2 linked regions of the Homo sapiens genome follow. The protein of the gene in region 1 interacts with the protein of each later gene in a pairwise test. Each region holds a gene or a part of one and is shown in the gene's direction. Other genes may lie near its edges.

Evidence for each region. The genes of interacting proteins can lie anywhere in the genome.
Region 2: the proteins of PRKG1 (region 1) and ARHGEF15 interact in binary tests that used the Homo sapiens proteins (3 or more experiments, as listed by UniProt).

Annotation. Positions count from the first base shown.
Region 1 is NC_000010.11:51,076,612-51,085,794, forward strand, and holds part of PRKG1 (cGMP-dependent protein kinase 1), read left to right. Parts: intron 1-9,183. UniProt on the Homo sapiens protein: Serine/threonine protein kinase that acts as a key mediator of the nitric oxide (NO)/cGMP signaling pathway. GMP binding activates PRKG1, which phosphorylates serines and threonines on many cellular proteins.
Region 2 is NC_000017.11:8,312,473-8,321,655, forward strand, and holds part of ARHGEF15 (rho guanine nucleotide exchange factor 15), read left to right. Parts: coding exon 1-168; intron 169-449; coding exon 450-782; intron 783-1,028; coding exon 1,029-1,083; intron 1,084-1,545; exon of another isoform or gene 1,546-1,681; intron 1,682-2,433; coding exon 2,434-2,492; intron 2,493-2,593; coding exon 2,594-2,805; intron 2,806-2,941; coding exon 2,942-3,102; intron 3,103-3,282; coding exon 3,283-3,435; intron 3,436-3,546; coding exon 3,547-3,676; intron 3,677-5,869; coding exon of another isoform or gene 5,870-5,914; coding exon 5,915-5,989; intron 5,990-6,097; coding exon 6,098-6,190; intron 6,191-6,277; coding exon 6,278-6,438; intron 6,439-6,534; coding exon 6,535-6,687; intron 6,688-6,839; coding exon 6,840-6,922; intron 6,923-7,026; coding exon 7,027-7,131; intron 7,132-8,369; coding exon 8,370-8,521; 3' UTR 8,522-9,183. UniProt on the Homo sapiens protein: Specific GEF for RhoA activation. Does not activate RAC1 or CDC42. Regulates vascular smooth muscle contractility. Negatively regulates excitatory synapse development by suppressing the synapse-promoting activity of EPHB2.

The DNA of each region.
Region 1 (9,183 bases):
CTGATAACTCCAGTTACACATTCCATCAGAGATTTACAAGATTCTAGGCAGTAGGGAATGAGCTATACAATGTGATAAGTTTAAAAGCCTCTTTGTACATGACTTGTAGAATATCTAGATTGAAAAACAAACAAACGAAAAAGGTCCAGAGTGGAAAATAAAGCTGGTGTGGCAAATAATTTACAGCATCCCATTATAATAACATTTTATCTATCATTATAATAACATTTTATCTATCAAACAACACTGTGTGTCCTGATACTGATTTCTTACTAATAACTTGTATTTTAAAGGACTCAGCTCTTAAGGTATTGCCATGATGCTTTGGGTGACTCTGAAGTATTTTATTGAGGAAAATGATAGAATGCCTTCCAAGCTTAAATAATTTTGGAAAAACATCTGTTCTTTTTTCACACTTACATAAAGAAAACTAGAAAAAAATTGGCTTGAGTAGTAGAAAGTGTACCTTTCTTAGGGAAAAAAGAAGTACATTGTATGCAAAATGAATAAATCTTATGTTGTTTGAATGGTTGTACAAGGTAGCTCCACAAAGAGTTAAGAAAACCTGCCAAACCAAAGAAGACTTGTTTGCCTTTCAATGTATTTCACTATGAATAATTTGATTACACGGACTTACTGGCAACAAGTGTTTGTGTCTTTGTATTTCATCTTTACTACATCTTAAATGTAGCCATCTTTCTTAAACATACATATAGATTATTGTGAGTTTCCAGTTAAAATGAAACTATCTAAATAGACACATTAATTTCCAGTTTACGTTCATGCTAGTTTTTGATTCTCTTTTTTTTAGATGTAGGTAACTGCCCCGCTAATGTTCTGTTCATTTATCTGATATATGCAAATATATCTGTTTAGTTTTTACTTACTAAGGTTGCCTTCTGAGGATTATAATTTTTTTTAGTTCTGGTTTCTTGGTAAATTTGGTCATTTAAAAATAGTATAAAATGTAAATTAACTTAATAACTTGAATCATTTTAACATTTTTGGCTTGGAATTTTTCCTTTAATGTGGGAATTGGAGGGAAGGTTCTGTCAGATTCCAGCACTGAGCCAGGACACTCCTGCTATAACTATGAGGTAGGAGGAGGGTTTTTATTGGTCTCTTTCACAATCTGTATAGATACAATACTTATGTGAAGGAAAGAACTGATGTAGCAAATTGGAATCTGTATTCCACTGCTACCAAATAACTCCTTGAGAATGTAAAACTACTAAACTATATTTGGAAATAAACTGAGCAAATAAACCCTTAAAATGAAAAACAAAACCTAAGCATTCATTATGTGAGATCAGATAGCCTGTTGATTGCCTATATAGAATAGTTCTTATGGACTTAAGTAATTTTATTTCATGAAGTTTCATTCCTGAAATTGATTCTATATCATGTTAGAACATTCAGTCTCTGAAATTTTGATCTAAACCCCTTATCTTTTGAAAATATTCCCAAATCTTTTCCATTTTCATGTCACAGGGTTTCAGTCATTTCAGTTGGATTATATAGACTTGAGTTCCTAAAAGTGGTTAGTGTCTTTGTATTTTTGTAAGCTGTTGCTTTCACTCCATGTTCTATTTTGTTTCCTTTCTTTTTCCTTTGTTGTTGTTGTTGAGACAGAGTCTCACTCTGTCACCCAGGATGGAGTGCAGTGGCACGATCTTGGCTCACTGTAACCTCCGCCTCCAGGGTTCAAGCAACTCTCCCATCGCAGCCTCCTGAGTGGCTGGGATTACAGGCACGTGCCACCAATGCCTGGCTATTTTTTTTTTTTTTTTTTTTTTTTAGTAGAGATGGGGTTTCGCCATTTTGGCCAGGCTGATCTTGAACTCCTGAACTCAGGTTATCAGCCCACCTGGGCCTCCAAAAGTGCTGAGATTACAGATGTGAGCCACCACACCTGGCCCCTGTTTCACTTTTTCATTGCGAAGTACTTTGGAGGAGTTGAGGATAAAAATATTTATTTATATTTATTTATTTATTTATTTATTTATTTATTTATTTATTTATTGAGACGGAGTCTCGCTCTATCGCCCAGGCTGGAGTGCAGTGGTGCCATCTCAGCTCACTGCAAGCTCTGCCTCCCGGGTTCACACCATTCTCTTGCCTCAGCCTCCTGAGTAGCTGGGACTACAGGCGCCAGCCACCACGCCCGGCTAATTTTTTTGTATTTTCAGTAGAGACGGGGTTTCACAGTGTTACCAGGATGGTCTTGATCTCCTGACCTCATGATCCGCCTGCCTTGGCCTCCCAAAATGCTGGGATTACAGGTGTGAGCCACCGCACCCGGCCTATTTTTATTTTTAAGGAGGCATTCATTTTAAGAGATTATTTAATCTTTTAAACTTTATACTGATATATCTCAAGAAAAACAAAATGTTCCTAAAGACTGTATATTAAATTCTGTTGGAAGTTGAGAGAATTCTAGAATTCTAGTGTAATCATAGATGGCATAATATTAAAACATAGATGGCTTGAAAGGTAGAAATTTAATTCCAAAAGTGCCCTACATCTCAGTTCAATACTTCTATGGGATTGCCTGTGACATGCAAAATATTGTAAGGCATTAGAGGTAAGAGCTACATAGGTCCTACCATCCAGGAGTGAACAAGGGGTTAACAATACTGCACAAGTAAATATTCTAGAAAGTAGATAGAGTAAGGTAAGTCACAGGGGAGATAACTAAGAGAGTTGGCAAAATATAATCAAGCCTGTTTGGTTTTATGGTGTCAGAAACTCATGTGGAAGTAGAAGGGTTTAAAGTAAGTATTTGAAGAAGGGCTATGATTTAGGTGAGTGGAAATGAGAGGAAAGAGGGAGGGATAGAGATAGGGATTGGGGAAATACATTCCAAGCCATTAGCAAAGTGACAGCACAGAAAAAGAAAGCAGGGCCCCTCTGGGAATTGGGAGCAACTAGTGGCTGTGCTAAAGTACTGTAGTGGGAACTGTGGAAAAGCAAGTTTAGGCCAGTGAGAATGAGAATCTTGGTTTCTATGATTTGATAAAGTAGGCGAGAGGGCATTCTTTTGGGTTTTAGAATAGCTAAGGCTCATTTGTGTGTGTGTGTGTGTGTGTGTGTTTTACACCAAGGACTAATAGTTACCCACTAATGCAGTTCTGAATGCCAGAATATCAGTTCAGCTTTCTTACCCCCACCATCACAGTCCTGTTAATAGTCGTAACTATATAACTAGGTAAGAGTAGTTAATTGAAGCAAACAGCAGATGATTAGAAGTCTTAAAGAAACCAAGTTCCAAGTTCCTTTTTCCACTCACTTCCAAATGTTCTCATTGAAAGTAATCTAACTTGATGCCACAGACTAGCACTGCAGATTCCTCACATACCTAGGCAAACTGAACATCAATGAGAATTGAACCTGAAGTTGTTTTTCGAAAGTCATCTTTCTTGTTTTTGTGGAGGAGTTAAATTCCAACCTAATGTTATTCTAATAGAGTTTCTAATTTAAGGTTGATTGTTAATTTGACATTACAGTTTATGCAGTAGAAATGAAGTCCCGGGAGCATTTATAAAAATGTATGAGACCAGCGTGCTAAAACCCTATTAGGGTATTTTGAAGCACAGTCAAGTTGCATGCCCCCAAAATGGGTCTTATAATGAAGATACTGGTAAGCTCTTAAATAGAATGGCTCTACTACCTGCCTGAGAATATAAATTACCAGCTTCCTTGCTCTACTGGGTCACATTTCCAAGCTCCTGCTACTTGTTATCTGGATTCCTAATGGGAAAGGGTAGAAGAACACAGATGATGTTTCTATTGTTGCTGTTTGCAGGTTATAAGGCATATGGACACATTTTTTTTTCTGTCTGCCTAGCAATGGAGGGTCTCCATGGTATCCTAGCAACCATATTCGAACACCAGGCTGCTGCTCTTTCTGCCATCTCTACCATAGGTGCTGCAGCCCATCCCAAGAAACTGGGTCTGTTGCTAGCATTCCAGATCCTCTGACTTGAACCTTTCAAGCTCAGAGAACGCAAGACAATGTGATAAATAAGCACATGCTGAAAGCAGCATTTACCAGTATGCTCAACAACTTATTATGCAATCACATCCTTGGCATTTTGTATCCTAATCTGAATTGTTGAGCTGGTACTGTTTGCCACCCCTTCCCCGACAGCCCTTGTCTGCTTCCTCACACTCAGTTCTGACACCGGTTCTGCTTCCCTCTCACCATCTTCTGTAACGACTGTGTTCCTCAGCACTTCCTTAAAATTTATTTTCTGAGAAGTTCAGTATGTGCAACCTGTTTGAACTCTCTAAGGATAATTTTGTTTGTAAGAGCAGAGGAATTTTCTCCCTCCAAAACTGTCCTGTAAATATAAACAATAGCACAAAAACTTCAGCTACACAAAACAGATGTTTAACACAATGTGGAACTAATAGTACACTCTCAAAACTGTCTTATTTCTGAATGAATTTTATAAGCATACTACTCTCCAGCTTTTTTCATTGCTTATAAAATTCATATAAGCATTCCTTCTGGAGGCTCTAGGGGAGACTCCATATCTTGTCTTTTTCAGCTTCTAGAGGCTGCCTATATTTTAAGCGTGAAATTTATAAGCAATGAAAAAAGCTGGAGAGTAGAGTGAGAAGAAGAAATGCATATCGAGGGAACAAGAAAGGGCGAAACGAGATGGGTATTGGTAAAACTATGCCATATTTGCAAGGAAGTTGGAAAATAGTGATAGGCTTTGTGTGCAAGTAAATAGGTGACAAGACTGGAAAAGAGCTTGCAAGTAAGATAGTACTTTATGGATGAAGACTGCCATAGAGAAGAGACACCCAAATTAGAGTATATCGAAGGCTTGCCTTCTTAGGGAGCTATACTGAAGATAGTTTCCCATTAGACCAGTGCTTGTTTTGAATGCATTGTATTGTCCCTTTGAAATGCTCCTTAATTTGACATCATTGAGGACTTGGTGGTGTTTGTGCAGCCAACAGTGCAGAGGACAAGAATAAGGGCAACAACTCAGTGCATCCTGCTTCTGAATGAAAGCATCAAGAATTACACTGCTCATCATCATCAGATTGGGTAACATTTATGGAGCACTAACTCTGTGCCAGGCACTGCTCCTGTGCTTTATATAGATTGTCTCTTTCATTGATTGAATGATTGATTGATTGATTGAGACAGGTTCTTTCTGTCTTATTGCCCAGGCTGGAGTGCAGTGACACAGCCATAGCTCACTGCAGCTTCAAACTCCTGGGCTCAAGTGATCCTCTTGCCTCAGCCTCCAGAGTAGCCAAGATTATAGGCACATAGCACCACACCTGGATAATTTTTAATTTTTTTCTGTAGAGACAGGGTCTCAGTTGCACAGGCTGGTCTTGAACTTCTGGCCTCAAATGATTCTCCAGCATCTGGGCCTCCAAAGAAAGTGCTGGGAATACATATGTAAGCCACCGCACCCCACCTGATCATCTTTTTTTTAGGACAAAAACAACCCTATGAGGAAGATTCTGGATTATCCCAATTTCACAGCATGAGAAAAAGAACTCTGGGGCGCAGAGAAGTGAAGCAACTTGCCCACAGTCACACTAGGTTGAGCCTGAATTTGAGCTCCAGAGCTTTTCTCCTTAGCCACTAGGCTCTCTTACTGCCCAAAGGGTCATGGGGATTAGGTAGCTGCAGGAAAACTTTATGAATAACATATAGGTCATTCTCTGGGGTGTATCTGTTCACCAATAATTAAATAGGAAGCAGAAGGACTCTGGGACTAGTGGAAGAAATAATGTAGGACGGCGGTTCCCAAACTTTCCTGCGCATTAGAATCACATGGGGAACATAAAAATCCAATTCCTAGATTGTACCACAAACCAATTAAAATCAGAATGTCCGGGTGTTGGAAGCTACATATCAGTAATTTTTGATGATTCTCCATGTAACTTTAACGTGTAGCAAAATTTGATAACCACTCTAATAGGAAGATGACAAGAGGAGTGTGTGTGTTTGTTGTGTGTGTACATTTGTGTGTGATATTAAACAAAAGACCAGGATAAAGTGTTCATCTAAAGAGTTGAATGTCTCTATTGGCTAAAACCTTTAAGCACTAGGGGCCTGCGAAAGCATAGCTGGATTTTTTTTTTTGCCAAATTGTACGTGTAGACAAATTGTACGTGTAGTTTAGTTGATGCCTTCTTGTTTATTCTCCTAAACAAGTGATCATTTCCCTACCTAGCCCATTGGTTCTCAAACATAGCTGTATGTTACAATCACCTAGGGAGCTTTAAAACATACATTTGCTGGGCACCACCTCCAGAGCCTATGATTTAATTGCTCTGGGGTAGACCTGAGGTATAGGTATATTATTTTTACTCCCAAAGTGATTATAATATTCAGCCAGGGTTGAGAAACCTCTGCTATGACCCATTCATTGTTGATTGTTACAGACTACTTGAATTCCTATTCTTTGGGGAAGCACCTTTCTTGTTTCTTTTTGAGCAACCCAAGTCCCTGGCTTGCAGTGGAGCCAGGCAGCTTCAGCTCCCCAATCTCCCTAGCATCTGAACCTATCAGCATCACTTTAATCTCTGGGGTTACCTGTTAAGGACCTGGGGCACACAAAAGTGGCAGCAGCTCTGTTCAGTGGGTAAGTTTGTTTCCCCTTTCCTGCCAGCCAGGGTTCCTGGCCACTTTCAAATGTGACACACATTAGGATCAGCTTTCATCCCAAGTTTTTTGTTTGTTTGTTTTGTTTTTAAATTCTTGCTGAGGGCAGCTGCCTCTGTGGCCAGATAGTTTCTTTGGGTCCCAGCTCCTGCTATCCAATGCTAAGTTGAAGGTGAAACAATGATGAGCGCCTCTTGGAAGAGCAGTCCTGGGCTTGTAGCGTCTCTCTTGGTATGTGATGTCTCTGCAGCCAGCTACAGTTTTTTTTTTTTTTCCTACAGATATTTTATCCTTTTAAGGCAAACAGCGTGAGCTCAGGCTGAGGAGTACTTTCCGAGGAGACTTCAGAGAAAGCAGAACTAGCACATCAACCTTTCAGCCCCCTTTCCAGGAGGCTTGGTTTAAGTGGACAGATCTGGGCATTGCTGGCAGTTGAGAGGTCGGAGACGACACCTGCAATAAAAGATCTTGGTGTGTCCCTCATGAAGACTTCCAGGGGAAATGAGAATTCCTAAACCCTGTGGTCAGACCTCACTGCTGCCCCTATTGCCAGCTCTGTGTGTCTTTCCTGCCCTCTGTCCCCTTAGATCCTTGTTACAAAGTCCTCAAGGTGTTGCTAATGGTCTCTGCTAGGAGCCTATTTACATTTGTAATTTAATCATTACCTTCTCAGGTGAGGATCAGCCAATATAGCACTTTATATAAGCAATGAAAATAGCTAATATAATTGCAAATACTTTTTGATAAAAATAATCTTAGAATCGGAGTCAGCAAGGAGCTTTTCTGTCTTTTCCCCACTCCTAAAATATGAAAATGTATTCAGCTGACAGATAGTATGTTAAAACAGAATAGATGTAATAAGGCTACCCGGAGGATTGGGGACATTAATTATGCAGGGAAGTTAATCATAAGTAAAGTAAACACTTTCATTATGAATCCAGCTTCATGGAGTGCATTTGGTTATTGCGCGTAATTGGGGAGGGATAAGAGGAATTAGAAACAATGAAAAACATGACCAAAAACATGTGTTTAATTATTATGACTTAGCAGTTAGAAGCAGAATGATAGGCAGAAGTTGGTGGTAGGACACTGGGAAAATATCTGTGTCTTTGCATTCTTTTATTCCAACCTATGAAAGGATGGGAGTTCATATAAAAAGAAGAAATTAGTGACAATTTACTACCAAGATATACTACTTTCACCTGCATCAAAAATAAAATAATGTTAATTACTTTTGCCTTTCTAAAGATCATAAATGTAAATTAAACTTCAGATTTGCTTTAAGATAGATGTAATTTAATTCACTTCTACATAGAGGTGGAGAGAAAATAATGTAAGCTATTTACTTATGCTTTGGCTGGGCATAAAACATGAGTAAATACCTTACATTATTTTTATGTGATTATAATATGCATCAAAAAACAGATCTAATGTTATTGACCTTCTAATATTTAGTGTCATTTTCTCACTTTTAGACCCTACCTACTGTTAAGAAGTAACATTGTACTTCTTTGAACATGAGGTAATTATAGTATCATCCAGTCAGTTTAATTTGGTTAATTGGATTGAATGTCAATGATGACAAATACACTCTAGTTAAGCAGAATACTTGGACTATTTTCAGAAACAATTGTATTATGGTAATATCAAGCTTTCACCAGATCTTGGCCAAGGAATAAGGAGATAATGTGAGGAAAAAACATATCTTCTGGATATACTGTACATCATCTTAATGGTCCAGTTTTATCAGTAAATTATGGTTTTGACAATGCTTCTAAGTTTGGACTGAAAAGAAAGAAGAAAATATGGCCAGGACAAAAAAGAAAAATGCAAAATCTAAGTTTTGCTCCTCTGGAGTAATTGCTACAGATGGAAAATAGGGTGGGTTGGTCATAAGCTACCATGCCTACAGGTGGCTGGCAAACATGCTGTAAAAGGAAGCACAGCTCCACACTTGTATCTTCCTAATACCTACGTTACCTAATTCACTGGTGACTAAGTAACACGTTTTGTATTAAAGCGAGTAAGAGAAGATAGCCTTAGATTAGATTTGTGCTGGTTTGACAGAGTGTCACCATATCCTTCACAGAGAAATATTAAACATCTGAAAGTGACAGGTACCATTTTGCTAAGCCTGTGTTGACAACTCATTATGTCAGTGGGAAGAGAGAAATAAGAAAATATGCACTGGAATGAACCCTAGAGTGTACACTGCATGCACTGTTGAGTACAGAACTTCATGTGAATCATAGTCTTCATTCTCGGTAATTGCTACTCTTTTATTTTTGAACTTTTGGAGGGTACCAAAGCTTAGAAAAGTACGCCCAAAGACACTTAGAAAAGTAAGAGTAGTGTTTTTTTTTTGGCTGGGAGATCGATTCAGTGAGTTCCTCTCTGAGCAAATGGATTTTACTTAATGTAACTTTTTTTTCAGTTCTGAATGTTAGAGGAAAATCTTTTTACCCCGTAGTGTATGGTACAGTGCAAAATGAAAGAATTGCTCGAAGTTTGTAGTTATTCATTTAATACCTAGCTTTATA
Region 2 (9,183 bases), on another chromosome or scaffold:
CAGCTCCTGGCACTGTGCGGAGGCTGGCTGGCAGGTTTGAAGGGGGTGCTGAAGGCCGGGCTCAGGATGCAGATGCCCCGGAGCCAGGTCTCCAAGCGAGAGCAGATGTGAATGGGGAGAGAGAAGCTCCCCTCACCGGGAGTGGGTCCCAGGAGAACGGTGCTCCAGGTGAGTGTGGCGGGTGGGGGGCGCTGGGTGACCTCAATCCACCCATCTTCTCCGTTTTCAGTGCTAACAACTTTCAGGGGCTACCTTTTCAAAAATGGAGTTAATGTTTGGGATATCTGGTTTCTGTATGTCGGGATTTGAAGGGAGTCAGGGTGGAGGAGATCTATAGATGCCTGGACCTTGATATTGCAGTTGCTGGGCAGGTTAAAGATGGAGATGGTCTGGGCGGGGGTGGAGCTGGGCCCCAAGGGCTTTCTCCTTAGGCTACCTGTCTCCCACAGATGCTGGCCTGGCCTGCCCTCCCTGCTGCCCCTGTGTCTGCCACACCACCCGGCCTGGCCTGGAGCTCAGATGGGTGCCTGTGGGGGGCTATGAGGAGGTCCCCAGGGTCCCCCGTCGGGCCTCCCCGCTGCGGACCTCTCGCTCCCGCCCCCACCCTCCAAGCATCGGTCACCCTGCCGTTGTCCTCACATCCTACCGCTCCACTGCTGAGCGCAAACTCCTGCCACTCCTCAAGCCTCCCAAACCAACTCGTGTCAGGCAGGATGCCACCATTTTCGGGGACCCCCCACAGCCAGATCTTGATCTGCTTTCTGAAGATGGAATCCAAACAGGTGCAGGGCCTGGGGGAGTGGACCTCTGGGCTGTGAGGGGACAGGAGAGAGGCAGGGGGGAACTAAAGCCCAGCAAACTACAATCCCCAACAGGCACTGGGCTCTTTGCTTCCCCACCAGCTGCTGCTCTGGTGCTGAAGAGAGTTGCAGTTTTTATAGTAACCATCCCTGCTGGGGCTGGAGTCGGGAGTCCTGGCTGGGGATCCTGGAGTTTTTTTTTCTCTTCACTCTGGCTTCTCTCTCCAGGGGACAGTCCTGATGAAGCTCCTCAGAATACTCCTCCAGCAACTGTGGAGGGGAGGTACTGAACACCCCCACCCCTACTCCCTGGTTCTCTCCCCACCATGCTTCTACCTGAGGGCAGACTAACCTTCAGCTCCAGCTAAATCCCACCTCCACAAAGGTGAGGGGACAAGGGCCAGGGCTCTAGAGATAAGCAGCCCTTGTTTCGAATCCCAGCTCTGGCCCTTATCAATTCTGTGATCTTATAGAAGGCCGGGCACGGTGGCTTACATCTGTAATCCCAGCACTCTGGGAGGCCGCGGCAGAAGGATCACCTGAAGTCAGGAGTTCAAGATCAGCCTGGCTAACGTGGTGAAACCCTGTCTCTACTAAAAATACAAAAATTAGCCGGGCATGGTGACGGGTGCCTGTAATCCCAGCTACTCGGGAGGCTGAGGCAGGAGAATGGCTTGGACCCAGGGAGATGGAGGTTGCAGGGAGCCAAGAGCGTGCCACTGCACTCCAGCCTGGTCGACAAGAGAGAAACTCCATCTCAAAAAAAAAAAAAATCTGTAGCCTTCCTGGGTCTCAGTGTCCTCATCTGTGAAATGGGGCTAAGCATAGGAACCACCTCATGGAATCGTGGGGATATGATATTGTGAAGAGCCGGGTCCAGAGTAAGTGAGTGCACCATTTTAACTCCCTTCCCTCACCTTGAGCTTCTATTGCAATTATTGTCCGAAAATCTATTTGGCAATCATGACCATCTCTTCTATGCTATCCAGGATTGTTAATTATCTTAGATTCACCATTGTTATCAGAAGTTATCTGTGTCCATTCATTTATTCAACAAACATTTACTAGTGTGGTTTTTAGCTTGGGCGAATGGGGGTGTGGTGGTGCTGATGACCACAGCAGGGGAGATAAGGGGCTGCAGGTGCTGGTGGGAGGTGTGAGAGTTTGCAGTCCATCACGTTGAGCTTCCTTGACACACAAATAGGGCGTTCCAGACAATGGTTGCTACGTGAGACGGCTGACAAGGAGACTCAGAAATCTCTGGTCTGCAATAGTTGACATAAGAATGGGGCCCACTTAGTTCAGGGGCTCCTCTCTAAAAGGCACATAAAAAGATCTGGAATTTGGGCCGGGCAAAGTAGGTTACGCCTGTAATCCTGACACTTTGTGAGGCCAAGGTGGCAGGATTGCTTGAGACCAGGAGTTTAAGACCAGCCTGGGCAACATAACGAGACCTTGCCTTTCCCCTTCAAAAAAAAAAAAAAAAAAAAAGCCTGAGGTTTGATTTGGGGAGCCGTCAGGGTCCCTACATCCAACCTGCACATGGGTTGCCCTGTCCAGCATGAGAACAAGCACCCCTACGGTGGGCAGCAGTGGTGGCCCTGGGGACTTCCTTCCCTTTCTTTCTCCACAGGGAAGAGGAGGGGCTAGAGGTGCTGAAGGAGCAGAATTGGGAGCTGCCCCTGCAGGATGGTGAGGGCCTCTGGACCTGAGGGTCCCTGCTGTGACCATCAAGCAGTGGGGAAGGGTTTGGGAGCCCTGGGCTTCCCTGAAGTGCTATGTTTGCCCTCTAGAACCTCTGTACCAGACCTACCGAGCAGCCGTGCTGTCAGAGGAGCTGTGGGGGGTGGGTGAGGATGGGAGTCCTTCTCCAGCAAATGCTGGAGATGCACCCACCTTCCCACGACCCCCTGGACCTCGCAACACCCTGTGGCAGGAGCTTCCGGCTGTGCAAGCCAGCGGTCTTCTGGATACCCTCAGCCCCCAGGAGAGGCGCATGCAGGAGGTGGGAGCTGGAGGTGGGAGATGGGAGGGGGGTGCTGGGGTTGGGCTGCATGGGTCAGGCATAGGGGAGGAGGGCCCAGGGTCCTAGCTTCCCACGGTGAACTGGGCTTCCCACGACTGCCTGCTTTTCTTTCTAGAGTCTTTTCGAGGTGGTGACGTCCGAGGCTTCCTACCTGCGCTCCCTGCGGCTGCTGACCGACACCTTCGTGCTGAGCCAGGCACTCCGGGACACGCTCACCCCCCGTGATCACCACACACTCTTCTCCAATGTGCAGCGAGTCCAGGGAGTCAGCGAGCGGTCAGTGGCTTTCCGTCCTTCCAGGGAACCTGCCCTTAGGCTGCTGGGCACGCCCTTTCCTCTCTCCCGGGCCCAGGTCCTTCCTTCTACGGACCCAGTTAGTTCCCAAACCTTCTCTCAAGAACCCGGGAGACCTGGCTCTCTGCCCCGCCCCATTGCTTGCTTCCCCAATTCCTTCAGGTTTCTAGCAACGCTCCTGTCCCGTGTGCGCTCTTCCCCCCACATCAGCGACTTGTGTGATGTGGTGCATGCCCACGCTGTGGGGCCTTTCTCGGTGTATGTGGATTATGTGCGGAACCAGCAGTATCAGGAGGAGACCTACAGCCGCCTCATGTGAGTGTCCCAGGGGTGGGGAGGAAGCTGGGGAGAGGGATGGGACCGAGGCCACAGCAGGTTGGGGCACCAGGGCCTCCAGGCAGCCGCTAGCCATGCCTGCTTCTGCAGGGACACCAACGTGCGCTTCTCCGCCGAGCTGCGCCGGCTGCAGAGCCTCCCTAAGTGTGAGCGGCTCCCGCTGCCGTCCTTCCTGCTACTGCCCTTCCAGCGCATCACCCGGCTGCGCATGCTGCTGCAGGTACCTGTCCCAGCTGCGGCCGTTTCTGCCCCACCAACCCCATCGGAGAACTCTCCCGAGGGCTTCTTGGCCCTCCAGCTATCACCATGCACTACTCCACCTTAAACATAAAATCCCCCAAATCATAACTCCGAATCTGGGTCTCTCAGCCTAGGACTCACCAAGTCCTACCTTAGGGGCCCTGTGCTCTTCCCCTTACCTGGACTGCCTCTAGGTCCAGGTGCAGGGAAAGGCCCTCTGGCTGGAGACATGAGTTCCACACCTAGCTCTGCCACTGACTCTCTGAGTGACCTTAGGCAAGTCCCTTCTGCTCGCTGGGTCTCAGGGGGAGTGTGTGAGCGGTTTTTGAGGTTGTCTCTGGCTATATTCTTCTACCCACATGCCTTCCCAGCTGGGGTGGTATCACCCCCAAGGGGGCAAAAATTGGTTCTTTGGGGGTGAAAATAATCTTAGTTATTCCAACAGTTGTACTCCATTAAGCTTTAGTGCATAAACAGAGTTCCAGTAGATCTGTAGAATTAAACTTTCATGGTGAGGGAGATGTTTAGGGAAAATTATCTTAAAAAGGCAACTTAGTGGGGTGATACGGGGGAAAAAAAAGTTTGAGATTTGAGACACTTTCTTCCTCCTCCTCCTCCTCTTCTCCATCTCCTTCTTCGAGACGGAGTCTCACTCCCAGGCTGGAGTACAGTGGCGCAATATCGGCTCACTGCAACCTCTGCCTCCCGGGTTCAAGCGATTCTCCTGCCTCAGCCTCCTGAGTAGCTGGGATTACAGGTGTGGACTACCATGCCTGGCTAATTTTTGTATTATTAGTAGAGATGGGGTTTCACCATGTTGGCCAGGCTGCTATCGAACTCCTGACCTCATGTAGTCCACCTGCCTCAGTCACCCAAAGTGCTGGCATTACAGGCGTGAGCCACTGCACCCGGCCTAAGACACTCTCTTCTATAGCAAAGCAGAGAGTCCTTTCTAACCAGGTCTCCCAATATGGGGATCTTTAGAGCACTGGCACGATCACGGCTCACTGCAGCCTCAAATTCCTGGGCTCAAGGGATCCTTGTGCCTCAGCCTCTAGAGTAGCTGGGACTACAATGCCACCATGCCCGGCTATTTATTAATTTTTATTTTTATAGAGACAGGGTCTCACTATGTTGGCCAGGCTGGTCTTGAACTCCCGGCCTCAAGCAATCCTCCTATCTCAGCTTCTCAAAGCTCTAGCATTATAGGTGTGAGCTACTGAGCCCAGTGAATGAGGGGATCTTTATGTGAAGAGTTCCCAACTAGATTATCAGTGTCTTTATGATCTTATTCAGCTTTATCTATCCCCATTGTAGACAACAAAATAATAATAATGATACTAATCAAAATAGCTCAACAGCTATTAAGCTTTCTAGGAATGGTTCTAAGTGCTATACACCTGTGTAACCTTACCTGCAACTATGTGAGGGTAGGAACTATTACTTGTCCTACTTTAGACATGAGAAAGCTAAGGCACAGGTCACATAACTTGCCTCAGGTCATACAGAAATAATTGATGGAGACAAAATTGTAATCTAAGCACTCTTAGCTACTCTGCTATATTGCCTGCACTAACAGTTTTGGTTAATAATTATTAAAATAATAGGAACCTTCGGGGCAGGCACGGTGGCTCATGCCTGTAATCCCAGCACTTTGGGAGGCCGAGGCGGGTGGATCATCTGAGGTCAGGAGTTCAAGACCAGCCTGGCCAACATGGTGAAACCCCGCTTCTACTAAAAATACAAAAAAATTAGTCGGGCGTGGTGGCACACGTCTGTAATCCCAGCTACTTGGGAGGCTGAGGCAGGAGAATCACTTGAACCCGGGAGGCAGAGGTTGCAGTGAGCCGAGATCGCACCCCTGCACTCCAGCCTGGGTGACAGAGCCAGACTCCGGAAGAAAAAAAAATAAGAACCTTCTTTTCAACATTTAATATGTGCCAAGAACTATGCTAAGCACTTTACATATATTGCCTTCTTGAATCCTCAAAACAATGCTATTGATATGCTAGGTGGGTATTAGCCCCATTTTACAGATAGGGAAGCTGAGGCTCAGAGAGGTAACAGGACTTGCTCAGGGTTCTGCAGATGGTGAGTGATGAGGTCTGTCAGCCTTGTTGAAACTGGCTGAAACAGACAGGGTCCTCTGAGCTGTGGCCCCTCTGAATCCCAGGGCCACAGAGCAGGGGGCCCAGTCACCCTTCCTCCTTGTCCCCAGAATATCCTGCGCCAGACAGAAGAGGGGTCCAGCCGTCAGGAGAATGCCCAGAAGGCCCTGGGTGCTGTCAGCAAGGTGGGCAGTGGGGAAGCTGAAGCAGGGGGAGGTGACAAGGTGGTAGAGAGAAATGGTAGGGAGCAGGGGGCTGGCCGCTGGGGTGGTGACACAGCTCCCCTTACCTAGATCATCGAGCGTTGCAGCGCTGAGGTGGGGCGCATGAAGCAGACTGAAGAGCTGATCCGGCTCACCCAAAGGCTGCGCTTCCACAAAGTCAAGGTACATCGCTGCCCAGGCTCCCCATCTTGCCCTGCCCCATGTTGCTGCTGCCACGCTAGAACCTCCTCTGCCTCCGCTTCCTCGCAGGCCCTGCCCCTGGTCTCCTGGTCACGGCGCCTGGAATTCCAGGGAGAGCTGACTGAGTTAGGGTGCCGGAGGGGGGGCGTGCTCTTTGCCTCGCGCCCCCGCTTCACCCCTCTTTGCCTGCTGCTCTTTAGCGACCTGCTGCTCATCACTCAGCCTAAGAGGTGAGTCCTAGGGAAGGAAGGAGCCCAGGCTGGAGTGGGCAGGAGGGGTCCAGCGGGACCCCTGCTGTCCTTCTGAACGACCTCATCCCTGGGCAGTGGGCAGCGGTTACAGGTTCTGGACTATGCCCATCGCTCCCTGGTCCAGGCCCAGCAGGTTCCGGATCCATCTGGACCCCCTACCTTCCGCCTCTCCCTTCTCAGCAACCACCAGGGCCGCCCCACCCACCGACTACTCCAAGCTTCTTCCCTGTGAGTTGTGTTTCCCTCAGAAAACAACCTTGGGACACTTATCTGACCTCTCAGACCTCCCCCACTTCCCCAGTCTCTCTCTTCTGTGGCTCCTGCCTCAGCCCCAGAGGATCTTTTGGGCCAACTGTGACACTTCCCAATATCCCCACCAGATCAGACATGCAGCGCTGGCTGGGAGCCTTCCCAACCCCAGGCCCCCTTCCCTGCTCCCCAGACACCATCTATGAGGACTGTGGTGAGTATCCCCCTAGAGGGGATGAGGGAAGAAAAAGCGAGTCTTAGAGGAATATGGGGGAGAAGCTAAACAGAATCACTTTAATGTCACCCACCCCCAACCAGACTGTTCCCAGGAACTGTGTTCAGAGTCGTCTGCACCTGCCAAGACTGAAGGACGGAGTCTGGAGTCCAGGGCTGCCCCCAAACACCTGCACAAGACCCCTGAAGGTGAGAAAGTCTTTCATTTATTTATTTTGTATTTATTATTATTATTTTTTGAGACAGAGTCTCATTCTGTCAGCCAGGCTAGAGTGCAGTGGTGTGAGCTCGGCTCACTGCAACCTCTGCCTCCTGGGTTCAAGGGATTCTCCTGCCTCAACCTCCCAAGTAGCTGAGATTACAGGTGCCCACCACCACGTCTGGCTAATTTTTGTATTTTTAGTAGAGATGGGGTTTCACCATGTTGGCCAGGCTGGTCTCGAACTAACCTCAGGTGATCCGTCCCCTTTCACCTCCCAAAGTGCTGGGATTACAGGCATGAGCCTCTGGTGCCAGGCCTTATTTCTATTCTTTTTTTTTTTTAATGGAGGTGGGGGGTCTCACTATGTTGCTCAGGCTGGTCTTGAACTCCCGAGCTCAAGTGATCCTCCTGCCTCAGGCTCCCAAAGTGCTGGGATTACAGGCGTGAGCCACTGCGCCTGGCCGTGTTTCATTTATTCATTCAATAAATATTTATTAAGCACCTACAAAGTGCCACTCGCTGTTCTAGGGACTGTGAATCAAATATATCACACTTCCTTCCTTGCTGGAGCTACGTTCTAGCAGAGGAGGCAGACGATAAAGAATGAGCAAAATAGATAAGTAAATTATAAAGTACATGTGAAGGTTATGAGTGTTATGGAAAAAAAAAAAAGTGAGCAGAGCAAAGAAGGTCAGGAGTTCCAGGGTTGGGCAGACTGAAATTTTCAATAGGGAGGCCGAGGTGGACCTCACTGAGAAGGCAACATGAAGCTTGATGGAGCTAATTTAGGCCCATGGTGTCTGGGGGAAGAGTGTCCCAGCTGGAGGCAGCAGGCAGTGCAAAGGCCCTGCGGCTGGTGTGTGACTGAGGAACTGTAAGGAGGCCAGTGTGACTAGCAGGAGAGAGAAAGGGGGAGAAGCAAATGAGGTCATAGAAGTGGCAGGGATGGGATCACGCAGGACCTGACAGGTCTCTGCAAGGACTCCACCTCTTACTCCAAGAGACATGAGCAGCCACTGCAGGGCTTGACGGAAGAGCAGCCCAGACTCTCTCCGAGCTGCTGTCACCTCCACTTCTGATGCCCTTTCTACCGATGCTCCAGGCTTGTCCATGAATTCCCACACCTACAATGACCCTGAAGGCCTGAGACCCCACGAGGCCCCCTTTGCCTCCTCACCTGCTCCCTGCCCCCACCTCATTGGAGCCTCTGTCTCTCTTCCCCCAGGTTGGCTGAAGGGGCTTCCTGGGGCCTTCCCTGCCCAGCTGGTGTGTGAAGTCACAGGGGAACACGAAAGGAGGAGGCACCTTCGCCAGAACCAGAGGCTTCTCGAGGCTGTTGGATCTTCTTCAGGCACCCCCAATGCCCCCCCACCCTAATGCAGGCTGAGGAGGGGGCACATGTTGGGAGACACCTACCAGTGTGGCACGGAGAGAACAAAGCCCATTCATCCATTGGATTCACTGTCAGTGGAGATACTACCTCTCGTGGCAACCATAGAGATCGAGCTTCAGGACAGAGCAGCCAATGAAAACGGCCGCCTGAACCCACAGCAATAAGAATGAATGAGGATGCCTTGAATGTGTGGCCAATGGAGACAGAGGCTTAGTGCAGAGCAGCCAATGGGTACTGAGCTGGCTGAGCCTATGGCCAATGAGTATTCCTGCTATGCTCAGGGCCAAGGAAGACAAATCTAGGTCATGGCAGTTGAAAAAGGGCCTCATTGGAGATAAAGTCGTAGGATAAAATTGGGAACAGGAATGAGCAGGAAGCCAATCAGCCAAAGAAAATGGTGATCTGGACCCAAGAGACCAGTAGTCACCCTGCTTGTTTCTGCAGCAATGACTGGTCCTGTCTTTTGAGTCTGGGAAATACTAGTTTCCATTCCTGGATGCTTCCTGTGCCCTCTCAAGCCAGTTCTTCTCTTCCAGAAGAATTCAGAGTATGTGTCTCAGAAAATCTGTGTGTGTACATGTGCATGTGTAGATATGTGTGTATATGTATCAGGAAAGGCATTCTGCTGACTGTGGTGTGTGTGTGG